Homo sapiens: one gene and its partner. The protein of the gene in region 2 purifies or fractionates together with the protein of the main gene of each other region. This does not show direct contact. Each region holds a gene or a part of one and is shown on either strand. Other genes may lie near its edges.

The links. Proteins that work in one complex are often made in the same cells at the same time.
Region 1: the proteins of SOST (region 2) and KCTD10 purify together in Homo sapiens (affinity purification with mass spectrometry; 2 studies listed by BioGRID and IntAct, with this or other methods). This does not show direct contact.

Annotation. Positions count from the first base shown.
Region 1 is NC_000012.12:109,460,136-109,467,301, forward strand, and holds part of KCTD10 (BTB/POZ domain-containing adapter for CUL3-mediated RhoA degradation protein 3), read right to left. Parts: intron 671-7,166; coding exon 501-670; intron 1-500. UniProt on the Homo sapiens protein: Substrate-specific adapter of a BCR (BTB-CUL3-RBX1) E3 ubiquitin-protein ligase complex. The BCR(BACURD3) E3 ubiquitin ligase complex mediates the ubiquitination of target proteins, leading to their degradation by the proteasome.
Region 2 is NC_000017.11:43,755,787-43,763,358, forward strand, and holds the start of SOST (sclerostin precursor), read right to left. Parts: upstream 3,006-7,572; 5' UTR 2,956-3,005; coding exon 2,736-2,955; intron 1-2,735. UniProt on the Homo sapiens protein: Negative regulator of bone growth that acts through inhibition of Wnt signaling and bone formation.

The sequences.
Region 1 (7,166 bases), on a different chromosome or scaffold from region 2:
CCACGTTGCAACTTTGTTTGAAATAAAGGGGTGTTGGCCATGTCTAGAAGCATTTTGTTTTTGTGGGATTTTACTGTCACCAGACCTGACTCCAGTGGTCCTGCTCTGTCTAGCTAAGGAGTGAGGGGTGTCTGTCTGTAGAGATTATGCTGAGCTCCCAACAATGACTTGTGGGACTAGAGTAAGCCCTAAGATTGGTCCCGAACACCGACCAAGTTTCACACCGCGGGGTTCTCTGCTGAAGGGTTGAGATGTACACATGAGAAGATCCAACAGCATGGGGCTGCAAGGAGTGACACAGTAGTTAGGTGGCCTGCTGTTCCAGGGAGGCCTCTCAGGGGTCACTCCAACCGAAGGAATCGGGCTCCAGGGCAAACTCATTAACTCTCACAACATCTCAGTCAGACAGAAACTGCCCCCATTTTGCAGAGAGGGAAAATGAGGAAGGCAGGTAGGCTTGGTGCCTCTCCACCCATATGGGAAGAAAGGGTGATGCCTACTTGTAGGGCCGCCTGGCACTCTTCCACCAGGCCTTGGACTAGGTAGTACTTGGCTTCTGCTAGCAGCTCCTCGATCTCCCGGCGGCTCTCGGGTAAAGGCACCGCCCCGTCTCGAAGGTAGTTGAGTATCGTACCAAAGTGCTTCCCACAGCGGTCAATGAGGATCCAGCCTGCAGAGGGAGGAGGCAGGGGCTGGTTACATGGGCCCTCCTCTTGTGGGAGGCCCTGAGCAGAGCTGGGGTGTCTCTCGGCTCCCTCTACCTCCCAGCGGAGAGCGGGACTGCCTGGAGAATGGCAGCCTCACCTGCCTACCTGCCCACTAAGGGCTGAGGAAGCCCCCACAGCCTCCAGGCCCTACTGGCTGGACACAACCATAACCCCAGGTGACCCTGGTCTGAGGCTCTGTTAGACATCCCGACTCTTGAGGCCCAAAAGTACACTTCTGAAGTACCCTCAAATATCCCTTACACAAGGACATCCAACAGGGGCCTCGTGTACCACACCTGGGTAAAACAGGCCCAAATGGCCACATACCAAGGATAGAAGAAAGCCTTCTGGGTAAAAAATATCTACTTCCTCTTTCCACAAAGCTTCCTTCAAACTGTCACATTAACAGAGCCATTTCTAAGAACGCACAAGTCTCACCCTCGCAGACTGTGACCTCTGACTCCCAAGGCTGAGCCCTAGACACTGACCAGCACCAACACAGGAAGTCCTATCCCACAACTTCCTGCAACAAGCACTTAGTGGCTAGTGAATGACCAAGACAGACCCCACCCTCAGGCAGCTCGGTAAACATGGGGAGACAGAATCAGCTTTTATTGGATATGGAAAAAGGTCCCAAAGCTGACCAAATCCAGGCACTGTGAAACATTCTTGGGGGTGGGGGCCAGGAAGACTCCCTACTCTGCTGCTCAATGTCCTTTCTAATCTTGTCACTGAGCTGACATTCCTCCACCAGAGATCCTGAGGGTTTTCAGAACTCCTCTACTGAAATGCAGTGTCTCTGGGAGTGGTATTTGTAGAAGACAGGACTGGAGCCTAGGAGGAGGAGGTACCAAAAAGGAAGGCAGGAATGGAGCAAAGTCCAAGTATCTCCCAACAGCAAATGTGAAGCTCTAAAAAGAAGCCAGACAGATGAGAGGGTGAAGTCGAGGCCTTCTGACAAGCAGGGTGACCTCAGGCAAGGGGCGTCCCCACGGCTCCTGCCACGCATTACAGGTGGAAAATGCCAGTGCGCAGGGCCGTGAGAAGGCTTCAGTAGGAATCGGTCACTTTATGCTACCACCTTCCTCCCCACTTTGGGAGAAGGGCCAACATTTCCACTCCTAACAACGCTGTGCCCTGTTCCACTCCTAACAATGCTGTGCCCTGTTCCACGTCCTCCTCAGACTGGGCCCTACTGATCCTGGGCCTTGGATCAGTGGCAGAGGCCAGCAAAAGTTGAGAGCAGCAAACGCATCTTTTTCACAATCCAGAGTCTTAAGTCTGCCCGCTTTCCCCTACCCCTTACCTGGCAGGTCCAGTCCCTGCCAAGTGCCCTCTCATGGTTTTAGGGCATAGTTTGGTATTCTTTGCATGAATTGCCAGGAAAGTTTGATAACAGGGCCGTTTCCAGGTTCCCCTGATGAAACAGCTCAGCCTAAAGTTCCTGGGCCTTTTGTTAAAAGAACGGTCTCCACCCTCCAGCGGCTTCCACTTCCTACTTCCGCACTGTTCCAATTTCCTGAGTAGGTGGGAAGAATACCCCAAGTGGGGGGAAATGCAATACAAATGTATAGCCCTGAGTCAACTCCTGGTTTCAGGGAAGAAAGAGGCCTTCCCAGGCATGGTAAATCACATCACCCTGACAGTGACCTGCAAATGTGATCCCACCCCACTTCTTTCTACATCTGAGAAAACAAAATATGGAATTAATATCTTATGCAACCCAGATGCCTCCAGGGCCAGTAAGCACAATAAATGAGTGCAGCTGGGCGGGGCTGAGGCTGGGGCTGACAGGACAGCATCTGCCCTGCCCCCAAGAGAGGCAGGCTCTTCCCACTCCAGCCAAGAGTGGCCAGGCAGGAATGTGGGCCCAAGAGCTGTGAGCTCTGATGTTCCATGCAATGCCAGAAACCCAGATTTTTCTGTGAATTCCCTGATTTTTAAAGGACGGTAAACTAATTAAAACAAAACAAAACTGTCATCAACCCACCACAAGGCAAACAAAACACATCTGCAGTTGAACTGGGCCTGCAGGCTACCAGCTTGAGGCCTCTGTGCTACCCTACACCAAGTAATTTTTTCTCAGAAGGCTGACAAGGCAGGGAAAGACCGTATTATCTTTCTACCAGTTCTTTTTTGAGGGGAGCTCATTCCCTTGCATTTTCCACAAATAAAACAGAGGCTCAGAGAGGTGCAGTGCCATTCCCAAGCAGAGGCAGCAGGACTAGACCACAAAGAAAAAGTAAGGCACTCATAGGAAAACTCCTTTCACCAGAATTGAAAAGATAAATAGAATTCAACTCAGCTGCGCAGGGAAGGAACCTTCCACGTTCTGCCTTTGATGTCTGCAGAACTCAGCTGCTTGGGAAGACCCAGGGCCCTGAAATCAATTATCCAAATGACAGCCCAGAGTTCCCATAAATGAACAGGCAGACCGTGACACTGGGCTCCGGCTCAAGAATGCCGTCAGGAAATGCTTGTGGCGAAAGAATCATACTTTGGACAAATAAGGGCAAGGGAGCCAGGCACACTCTCCAGGAGGTTTCAATCAGCGTTTTGACTTTAAGATACTGTGGTTGCTTTCAAAGCAGGAAGTGATCCCTTTGAAAGTCAGCTCAAATGCCTAGCACGTAGAAAGACAAATGGAAGTCAAGCAGCTCCTCGCATGTGGGGGGTCTCTCTCCTGCTGCCACGGGGCACGAGAGCTATTTAGGAAGGCTGTCCAAAGTCAGGGCAGCCTGGGATCCCAGACCCATTAGGCAAGGCTGGAGAGCAGAACTGACCGGGACCACACTGGGCAGCACTGGACTTGGGCTCCAGGACGTCCTCAGCACAGCACAGCAGTTAAGTGTTGGAAACCCAGCTCTGATACCTTCTTGCTGGATGACATTGGTGCTTCAATTAACCTCTGTCTAGCAGTTTTCTCTTCTACAAACGATCTCACAGGGTTGACATAAAAATATGATGAAAGAACGTACAGAAGGCACACAGCACAATGCTGGGTCTACCAACAGCACTCAAAAGCAGCTATGGGTCTTTAACAATCTCATCTTTCATCATTATTGCTGGAAGCAGAGCAGCAGCGTCCAGAGGCAGCAAGTTCCAGCCCCCAGGATGGAGTTGGTGTTGCTTTCAGGGACCCAAGGGAGGAGAAGGCTGCTCTGGGGGTCAGGAGGATTGGGCCACTAGGCTCCCCTCCTCCCCGCCCCGTGAGCATACCATGTGCTTCCTCTCTCCCTGGATGTCTGACCTCTCCTTTCCCCTCTCCCACCACCTCCAGGGAACCTTCACTGACCTCTCTTTGCCATCCTAAGGTATTTATACTCTATATTTTTGTGGTTCCCAAACACCCCTGATCATAAATGCCACCCAAGGTACTTGTGAAAAATTCAGATTCTAGCAACCTGCCTCATTCCTGATCAGAATCCCTAGGGCAGGGTCTCCAACCTGAGCACTTTGACATTTTGGACCAGATAATTCTTAGTTGTAAGAGGCTGCCCCGCACATTGTAGGGTATTTAGTTGCATCCCTGGCCTCTACTCACTTGACGCCAGGAGCACCATCATCCCCAAGAAACAACAAAAATGTCTCTGGACATTGCTAAATATCCCAAAAAATCACCCATTGGTTTGGGCATCACTGAGGTAGATCAAGGATGTAAGTGTAAAAAAGCGATTTAAACTCTGAGGTTTCCAAAAGCCCCATTAAAAAAGCTCAGACAAGTCAGACTGGGAGAAGATATTTGCAGCACTGGACCCCAAAGAAACAGGATCCAGTATATGAACTTTTGCAAAGTAATAAGAAAAAGGCAAATGTGTAAGTAAGATGCAATCAAGCAGTTAAAAGATTAAACTCAAAAGAGCAATACACATAAAAACATGCTCAACGTACCAGACATTAGGAAATACTGAATAAAACAAGGTACCATATCATACTCACCAGATTTGCAATAATTAAAAGGTTGGACAGTGCCAAGGGTTGGCAAAAATCCAGACTTCTGCAGGGAGTAGAAGTTGCCATAACCACTCCAGAAGGGACTCCTGCAATATCTAAGGAAGTAGAAGATGCTGTCCCAATTCCCCTCCTGGGAATAAACTCTAGGGCTGAGCTCCCAACAGTGGGTAAGATCTTAAAGCCATAGCCCTTGAGATGGCTGGGTGGGATCTAGGGAGTCCAGAGCCCCCTCATTTGCCAAAGTGAAAATATGATTGTCTACGTGCCCCATGATGTGGCAAAGGCTGGGCAGCATCGCACAGAGAAACTCCCACGCACGGGGAAAGCGTTCAAGGATGTTCACATTCGTCACAGTGAACACCGCAAACCCTCTACATGATCATCAACAGAATATGGCTCCGGCAGCGGCTGTATGCTTCTAGAATGGACACTCTACCACCGGAAAATGTCTGAACGAGAGCTATTTAGTTGTGGATTGATCTCACAAGCATAATGCTACGTAAGCAAAAGCAAAACATACAAACTGTACAGCACCATTTACATCACGTTTAAAAACACACCAACAGCGCCTTGTTTAGGGACATGCACAGCTATAGTAAGAGTAATACCTGGAAAGATGGACACTTGTGGTTCTCAATGCTGGTTGCACACTAGAATCACCCAGAGAGCTCTTCAAAGTCCTACTGCCTGGGCCACACCCTGGCTGGGACCCAGGCACCAGTACTGACCTCCTCAGGTGACTCCCTCTGTAGCCAAGCTTGAGATCCACCTGGTGACCCCAAATGCTTACCTTTGGAAGGGAGAGGGACAAACAGAGAAGGCACAAAGGGGCCCCACAGGTACAGGTCATACTTTATGCCTGGGCTGAGCCTGGTGGCACAGGTGAGTTTGTTGTATTATTCACAATTTAAAAGCTCTCAGGTACTTCAGAATTTTACCAAAGAGCATTGTCATGGAAGGCAGAAGGGCTGGAGATCTCAGGGAAACCCCCAGGAACTGCAGTTTTCCCATGGATCAGACTGGACTTCCCAGTTTTCTAGGGGAATGTGCGATCACAAAATGAATGACTCTTCAATCTAGTGTACGCACTAATTCCAAAATACATTAGCAAGACATCAGAAAACCTACAATAGGGGGAAGTATTGTACGAAGCAACAGGGATGAAACAGACCACTACAGGCAAATGCTGAACAGAATGCATTGTGAAAGGTGCTACCTACATCCGTGGACCAATGGCAATGCTGACAAGGAGTCAGGTGAAAATTCTAGCATTGTGGGAACTGAACCTTTCCGGGAAGAGTCTGGAAAGGGCATGCTCACTGCCACAGTGTCCTTGTCTTCTCAGAAAAGCCATCCCTTGGGGGTAGTGTGGAACTGCAGCACACTCATCCCTGAAGGCCAAGGCAGGCAGCCTCTCCCGACATGCTGCTAAGACCTGCTTCTCTGTAGCCCCTCAGCAACACTCATCCCCCCAACATTTACACTCAGAACAAAAGCCATAATTGACAGTTCCCATTTACTGAGTTCTCCCAACATCTCAGGCCCTGTGGCAAGCGCTTTCTCATGTCCTCACTCAATCCCCAACTCTGCAAAACATTATCATTCATAACTGGGGAAGGAGGAAAGAGGTTCAGAGAAAAAGCCACTTGTCCAATGTCACATGACCAGTAAATGGCAAATAGGCCAAAATTAGCACAACATGTAGACAGAGCTCCACAAATGTCGGCTGTGACTGTGACATGCAGCAGAGCCAGGTGTTGAACCCAGGCCTGGCTAACATCAACATCCAAGTTCTTCTTGGTTTAGGAGTTACTTGCACACAGTACAAAACTCAATCAGGTAGAAGGGCCCAGAGCAAAAAGGAGACTATTCCCCCCATGCTGGATGCCAGGTCCCCTCTCCTGAAGCAATCACTTTCTTGGGCAACATGACACATCCCCTGTTCAGGACCTTCAAAGCCCCTGTCCTTTAACCAGCAAGCTGTACTGCTGGATTCACTGCCTGGCTGAGCTGCACTTGGCATTTCTGCCTATTTGTAGCAAACTTCATTGCAGCTGACAGGCTTCCAGCCTGTAGGCCAGGGTAGAGCTGCAGGATGCAGGGAGTCTATCCCAGTTTGTAGACCCAAGGGTGCATTTGAGGCAACATGCAGGCCATGGGTCAGGCTATGCAGTGCTCTCTCCAAGGACCGACAGGATCGCTCTGCCAGACACAGACAACAGCTGGAAGGCCAGATACCCAGCCTACCAGCCCAGGCCTTCACGAGGGCCCCCACCAGAGGGCTTTAGCACAAAGACAGCAGTTAAACCATAAGGATGCCACACTCAAATGATCTGGCCTTGGACCAGGCCCACAACTAGCCATGGACAGCAGACAGTAAGAGGCAGCAAGTCCTGGGTTCAGCAGCTTCACCTTTTCTAGTCCCATCAGCTTTTGAAAAAGCATTTCACCTCTGAAATGGGGACTCCTCACTTGGAATGGCAACAACAGTATCCACCCCTCGAA
Region 2 (7,572 bases):
GGTGGCCGCCCGCCTGGCCACCCCTGCCCTGGACCGGCCCGTCTCTCTCCACCCCAGCCCTGCTTTTGCCAAGCCTGTCTCCAGAGGCTTTTGCCCCTGAACATCTATTGCAGGAAGGTCCCAGATGCTCTAGAGCTGGTGGAAAGCTCTCCTGCGCACCCTGTCCCCTCGGAGCCAAATGACTGCTGGGGTTCAAACACCAGGGCTCCATCGCTCACTGCAGGTGTCATCTTGGGCAAGTTCCTTAACCTCTCTCTTCTTCCTGTCTGCAAAATGGGCCGCCCCAAGCATTGCGAGTTAATCCATTACACACGCAATGCAGAAAATACCATTTGGCACATATAGCTGAAAGCGTCGGCTGTTATGTATTATTATTATCATTTCTCTTCTGGGGTCTTCTTATGATTTAAGCCACACTTGTGCCGCAGGGTCCCTGGCCTGGGCAGGGTAAGTACTCAGCACACCTTCTGCCTGGCTCTGGCTTCTCCCAAATTCCTTTTCCAGCCACTTGGGAGGGGTGGACAGGGGATGGAGAAAGGAGTAGAGGTTAATTGAAGGTAATAAATCAGGGCAGCTGCTGTGGAGGCGAGGGACTGAAGGGGAGGTGATCAGGACAGGAATTCATTAGACTTGAAAGGAATCAAAGGCAGTGTGTCCAACCCCCTCATTATCAATGAGAATACTGAGGCCCAGCCAGAGAAAAGAACTTGCCCAAAAGGCTGGGCTGCATCTCCGGACTCCACTTCCCTGGGGTCCCAGCACCTTTTGGCTCCGGCAAGAGTGGAGGCTCTGCGTTCGAGCATCCATGGGAGGCTGGGCTGGGGGATGGAGCTGAGGGCTGCTTTTTACTGTCGTTACTTTCCTACCATAGGGGCCCTGAGCTCTGACCCAAAACCTACAGGTTCAGCTGCCACAAACATTGACCTGGCTCTCTGCTGGGCACATTTCTTGTTCTGTGTTATCTGAATGGGCGCCTCATGGTGATACTCCCTGGGCAGGCAGAGATTGGGCTCCGAGGCCTGGCCTGATCCCCTGCACACACCTTGACCATGTCTCCTATGGTGGACTTAGATGGGTGGGAGCTTTTTAAATAGCTGGTCGTCGTGTGAGTACCAGTCCACCCCCAAAGGTTTCATGGGGATAGTTCCAATGTGACAAGAAAGAATGAAAAATAGTCTTAAGACCAAACCAGAGAGGGGACAGAGAAGGCCACCCCCCACCCCCACTCTGAAGAGCAAGCACAGCAGGGGAGATGTGGCCACTGCCATCGTCTGGGGCTGCTTTCTGGTCTGTGGGCTGGTTTGCATCCTCACCTCTGCAGGGCTGGAATGTGTGTGTGGTCAGGGGGGCATTTGCCCAGGGAAGGGGGCATTTTGCGGCTTTTCGAGAATAGCGCCCCTAGGCCAGGCACTTCCTCTGCAGATCATGACTTTGTTTTGAGCATGTGGCTTCCTCAGGGGCTGTGGCCTCTCGTGGGAGTCCAGCAAGGTGGACATTTTGTGTTTGGGTTCCTTACAGCCCTTCAGGCAGTCGCTGGAGCCCAGCTGACCTTGCCTAGAAGGGGAGCTGTGGGGGGAGGCGCCCTTGTCCTCCATTTTGAAGACGGAGGGTCCTGGCTGGCCTCCCATGCAGTTGCCCTTTTTAGCACCCCATAGTCCCAACAGGTTGTGAGGCGGGGAGGGCTGGGGTCCAGGAGCCTGGGCAGTGGACTTCTCTGCCACCTGGATAATGGCCAGAGGACAGGGAAGCTCTTAGTCTGAAGTGTCATTTCAGACGCCCCCATGGCCTCAGGATTCCTGCCAATTATAGAGCCAGATGCACACTGTCACCTGGGCTTCTCTGTGCAGGCCTGACCAGGAACCCAGGGTTCCTCTTCCTTCTCCCTCCCCTGGAATGAGGCAAGGTTGGGACTGGGGTGGCTGCTGAGGACAGATGTCCCTACTCCTGCACAGAGGATGCTGCTCTCCCCTCCAGGGCCTGGACTCAGCTGCACCCATGTCAGGGGCTAAAACTGTGCCGAAAACTCCCATTCCTTCAAGTGCCAGCTCCCTGGGCAGGCCGTGGGCAATGCACACTGCAGGGGTGCCTCTCTGGCCTTCCTCCCCACTGCTTTGTGGAGATCTGTCCCCCACACCCCCCCACACACCAGGGCTATCTTGCAGTTGGATCAAACCAGGTTCACACCTCAGCTCTTCTCACTACCAAGTTACTGAGTGCCTGGAACCTGTTTCTTCCCCTTCGAGCTGGGGGTTCACCTCCTGGGGATTCCATGATGTGGGTCTGTGTGGTGGGGACAGCCACCACCAGCATAGAGTGTCCGGTGCCCCACAGGTGCTGTTCTGTGGATGGGAGGCTCCCTTACCTTGTTCCCTTCCCAGTGGTACCAGCAGCTGGACGTGGCTCCTATATTCCCAGGAGGAGATTCTTTGAAACCTTTTCTTTTCTGAGCCCCTGAGCCTGTTCTGATGCCCTGATGCCATACCCTCACCACCCCAGCGTCCTCCCTGCCCTGGGCTCTCACCAGCGTCTGTTGCCTCATGCCTCTGCACCTGAATTTGAAGGCTGCACCAGCGAGCCATTCTTCCCCCACCTCCAGGCAAGACTGTTCCTCGACCAGTGCTGGCAGAGGCCAGCAATCTTCACTGGGTCTACCCCAGTCTTCCAAGCCTCCCAAAGAGAAGTTTCTAAAACCTCCCCAGGATCTTTTACTAAGAATTCTCTCCTCCACCCCATACCTTTGGTCTCAAAGGGGTGGTGGGGAGGCCGCCCTCCGTTCTCCGCCCGGTTCATGGTCTTGTTGTTCTCCAGCTCCGGTGGAGGCTCGGGGTACTCTCCGAGCTCGGGGATGATTTCCGTGGCATCATTCTTGAACGCCTGCCACCCCTGGCCCTCCACTACACGGAAGGCTGTGTGTACCAGCAGGCAGACGAGACACAGGGCCAGTGGGAGCTGCATGGTACCAGCCAGAGGAGGGCACGCCACCTTCCAGTAGCACAGGCTCTGGTCTCCAGCCGAGACACGGTCGCCTTTTTAAAGCCCCTCTCTGCTTCATGCCAGCCAATGAGGACAGGCTGGGGCAGGGCTGGTCCCATGTTTCCCTCAGCCCCGGAGGGAGGGAAAGGGGTGTGCTCAGAGCAAACCCTCCCCAAAGACTTCTCCTCTAGCTCAGCAAACTTCCAAATTGCTGCTGGCACTCCCAGGTGACCCAGAGAGAGGGGGCGTGTGAGGCAAGGCCCAAGCCTGCTCTCCGGCACCTCCCACGTGCTGGCGGCTGTGGTTTTCAGATATCAAAATGAGCTCCGGCTTTTAATTGTCTGTCTCCCTGGGCCCTCGGGCATTCTCAAAACAAACTGTGGACCCGCTCAACAAAGAAAATGTGCAGTTCTGAGTGCTTCGCGGGGCTGAGCCCGGCCTATTCCATTTCTCAGGCCAAGTTCATTTGTCACCCCACCAACAAATGGCCCAAGGCGTTTCTGTTTGACCCCCATAGACCCAGCCAGAGGCAAAAAGATGCTTTTAAAGAAATCCCATTGGTCCCAACTCCACAAGTCTCAGCATTCATTGTCCTAACCAAGAAAGCCTCTCTTGGTATTCTCTGGAAGGCAAGAGAGAGAACTAGAGGGTCAGAGCAAGGGTGCCCGCTTGGGAGAGAGGGCAGGATTCTGGTTACAAATCGAGGATGCGCTGGTCACTCAGGCTCCTGTGGTGGACAGCACAGAGGAAATCCCAGCTCATGCTCCTCAGGGATCCTGTGCACTGTGACAGGCACTTCTGAGCCAGGGCACTCACTGTGGCTCGCAGGGTGATGTGCTGAAGACAGTCATTTCCCCAACCAGTCTGTGTGTGTGAGAAGACAACACCAAATTCCTTTCCTTAGCAAAAGCCACAGCCAGCGTTTTTAGTGCTGACATTTTATTTTCTTGTCTTCCAGCTGGTTACATTTTTCAAAAACAGTTTTGAGTCCTGTATGGAAAGCTTCATTGGTGCACACCACAGGATGTGTTCCATGAAGCCATCCCAGGACCAAGTGGTCACAAAGAAGCTAAGAGAAAATGCTGCCTTGGCCCTGCATATAATGAGCCACACAGGGCCGGGGCGGGGGGCGGGGGGGCAGGTAGAGGCGTGGGGGAGAAGGATTCACACCTGAGGTGCAAGAAGAGAAAGGAAGGCCAGAGGAATCTTTCATTGAAGACAGATTGTTTGAGGACAAGCAGCTCCTGTGAAGAGGCTGCCCAGATCCTCTGGTATTTTAACTGGGCAATGAATCAGCATGCCCCACCTGCAGAGCCTCTGCAAGTCCTTTGCCACCTGCCTCAACTTGCAAGTCGCTGTGTCCATCTGCAGCCGACTGTCCTCCTTTCCATCATCCATCATCCGACACATGAATGCAGCTGCTCTGACAGTTTTACAAGCCAGACAGAAGCCCCCTCAGGAAGGGCCCTCTCTGATACCTGCTTCCTAAGTCAGTTTCCTTCAGGGCAGATGAAAACAGCTGTGGCCATTGTTGGGGGTGATCTATCTCTCCCAGCAGAGCCGGTAGTGTTGTGAGAAGCTGGCCCTCCGCGCCACCTCCCCTTGTCTATGACCCTCCAGCCTCCTTTTCCCTTGCTCTGGAATGTGGACTGTTAACCCTCTCATGACCAGACGACTGCCTTCTTGCAATGGACTTGGGAGAGAGCAGTTCTGATGCCTGGGTTCCTTGAGCAGGTAGGATGGATGCTTATAGCCCCACCTGCTGTTGGGAGCGGCTGGACCGTCTGCATTAAACAGAGGCAGTGGGATTCATCCCTGGAACGCGTCTGCCACCTGCTGGAGACAAAAGGAGGGGTGACTGCAGGATGGCAAGTCTCAGGACTGGACGTGATTTCCTTTCCTTTCCTTTCCTTATTTGGAAGTGAAGTAATATTAAAAGGAAAAAGAAGAATCCAGTGGACTTGAACCTCTAAATGATCCACACCCCTCTGAATGGCTCAGCGAGAACCTGCTGTGACATCTTCTGCTGTTTCATTTAATGTTAAGTCATTGACAGCTGTTTATTTTTACTCAGTCCACAAACTTGTCATTGTTCACAGTACTCCCTGGAATTAAACCCCCAGGGTTTTAGCTGATTCCTATTGTGAGTAGTTTAGGTTATTTCCAATTTTTTTTCCTATTTCCAGCAGGGTTGCTATGAACATCCTTGTACGGCTGAAATTTTTTTTTTTTTCTTTTTTTGGCAGATTCTCTCTGTGGCCCAGGCTGCAGTGCAGTGGCACAATCTTGGCTCACTGCAACCTCCACCTCCTGGGTTCAAGCAATTCTCCTGCCTCAGCCTCCCGAGTAGCTGGGATTACAGGAATGCACCACCACGCCCGGCCAATTTTGTATTTTTAGTAGAGACGGGGGTTTCTCCATGTTACTCAGGCTGGTCTCGAACTTCTGACCTCGGGTGATCTGCCCAACTCGGCCTCCCAAGGTGCTGGGGATTAGAGGCATGAGCCACAATGCCCGGCCTCAGAGTAATTTTTTAAATTAAAATTTTAAAATGTGGATATAATTATAAATTTAAATATACTTATAAGAAATAAAAGCCTGGGCAACATGGTGAGGCCTAGTCTCTACAAAAAATTTAAAAATTAGCTGGGCATGGGGTCGCACGCCTGTGGTCTTAGCTACTTGGGAGGCTGAGGTGGGAGGTTCACTTGAGGTTGAGGTCGAGGCTGCAGTGAGCCATACTTGGGCCACTGCACTCCAGCCTGGATGACAGAGTGAGACCCCGTCTCAAAAAATAAAAATAAAAAAAAGAAAATGCAGACTCCGTGTATCCTTTATCCAGTTTCCCACAACAATAACACCTTGCGAAACTATAGGACAATATCACAACTAGGATATTGATATTGACACAATTTACCAATCTTACCCACATCTCCCGTGGTTTAACCTCTACTGTGTGCGTGCACACGCATTCACGTGTGTGTATACTTAGTTCTATGCAATCTTGTCACGGGTAAATTTGGGGATCCACCACAGTCAAGATAAAGCACAGCTCTGTGACCACAAGTCTTTCTCCTGTTGCCCACCTCCTTCCCTCCTTTTCCCTCCCTCCCACAACTAACCCCTGGCAACTACTCATCTAATCTCCATTTCTGTCATTTTTTTTTTTCACTTCAAAATTGTTACATAAATGCGGCCAGGTGCGGTGGCTCACTCATGTAATCCCAGCACTTTGGGAAGCCAAGGCAGGCAGATCACTTGAGGTCAGGAGTTCGAGACCAGCCTGGCCAACATGGCGAAACCCTGTCTCTACTAAAAATACAAAAATTAGCTGGGCATGGTGGCACGCACCTGTAATCCCAGCTACTTGGGAAGCTAAGGCAAGAGAATCGCTTGAACTCAGGAGGCGGAAGTTGCAGTGAGCTGAGATCGCGCCACTGTGCTCCAGCCTGGGTGACAGAGTGAGACTGTCTCAAAAAAAAAAAAAAAGGTTATATAAATGGAATCAATTAGTATGTAGCCTTTGGGGATTTTTTTTTCACTCAGCATTATTTCCATTATCCAAGTTGTACATATCAGTAACATGTTCCTTTTTCTTTTCTTTTTTTTTTTTTTGGCTGAGTAGTATTCCACAAAGTTTAAAAAAACAAAACAAAACTTTAGAGTTATTTCTGGAAGTGAATGCTGTGTCTGAGGGAGTGTGAAGAGTTTGGTGGTCTGATGAGGGTATTGCAGGGCTGTTTTCCAGAAAAAGCCCAGTCCCCGCCCTCACCTGCAAAATAGAGGCTCCCATAGGTGGTACTTTGATGAGGCTGCCGTAACTAAGTACCACAAATTGGGTGGCATAAACAACAGAAGTCGTCTCACAGAGCTGGAGGTTAGGAGTGCAAGTTCAAGACATTGGCAGAGTTGGTTCCTTCGAGGACAGCGAGGAAGGCCTTTTACCTGCCTTCTGCTGGCTGCTGACAAGCTGTGGCATTCACTGGCTTGCAGAAGTGTCACCCCCAATCCCTGCCTTCATCTTCACATGGTGTTCTCTCTGTGTTCGAATTTTCCCTTTTTTCTAAGGAGGTCAGGCATATTAGATTAGGCCCAGCCTAATGACCTCATCTTAACGAGTTACATCTGTAATAGCCCTATTTCCAAATAAGGTCACATTCTCAGGTACTGTGACTTAGGACTTCAATATATGCATTTGGGAGGAATGCAGTTCAACCCATAAATAAGACTGTCAACACTGGGTTTGGGATGTTGATTTTTTTTTTTTTTTTTTTTTTTTTTTTTGAGACAGAGTCTCGCTCTGTCACCCAGGCGGGAGTGCAGTGGTGTGATCTTGGCTCATATAACCTCCACCTCCTGGGTTCAAGCAGTTCTCCTGCCTCAGCCTCCCGAGTAGCTAGGACTACAGACTCCCGCCACCACACCCAGCTAATTTTTGCATTTTTTTTATTTGTTTTGTAGAGATGGGGTTTCGCCATGTCGGCCAGGCTGGTCTTGAACTCCTGACATCAGGTGTTCCCACAATCCCATAAAGTGCTGGGATTGCAGGCGGGAGCCACCGCACCCAGCCGATTTTTTTAAACATTGAATTTAACAGTT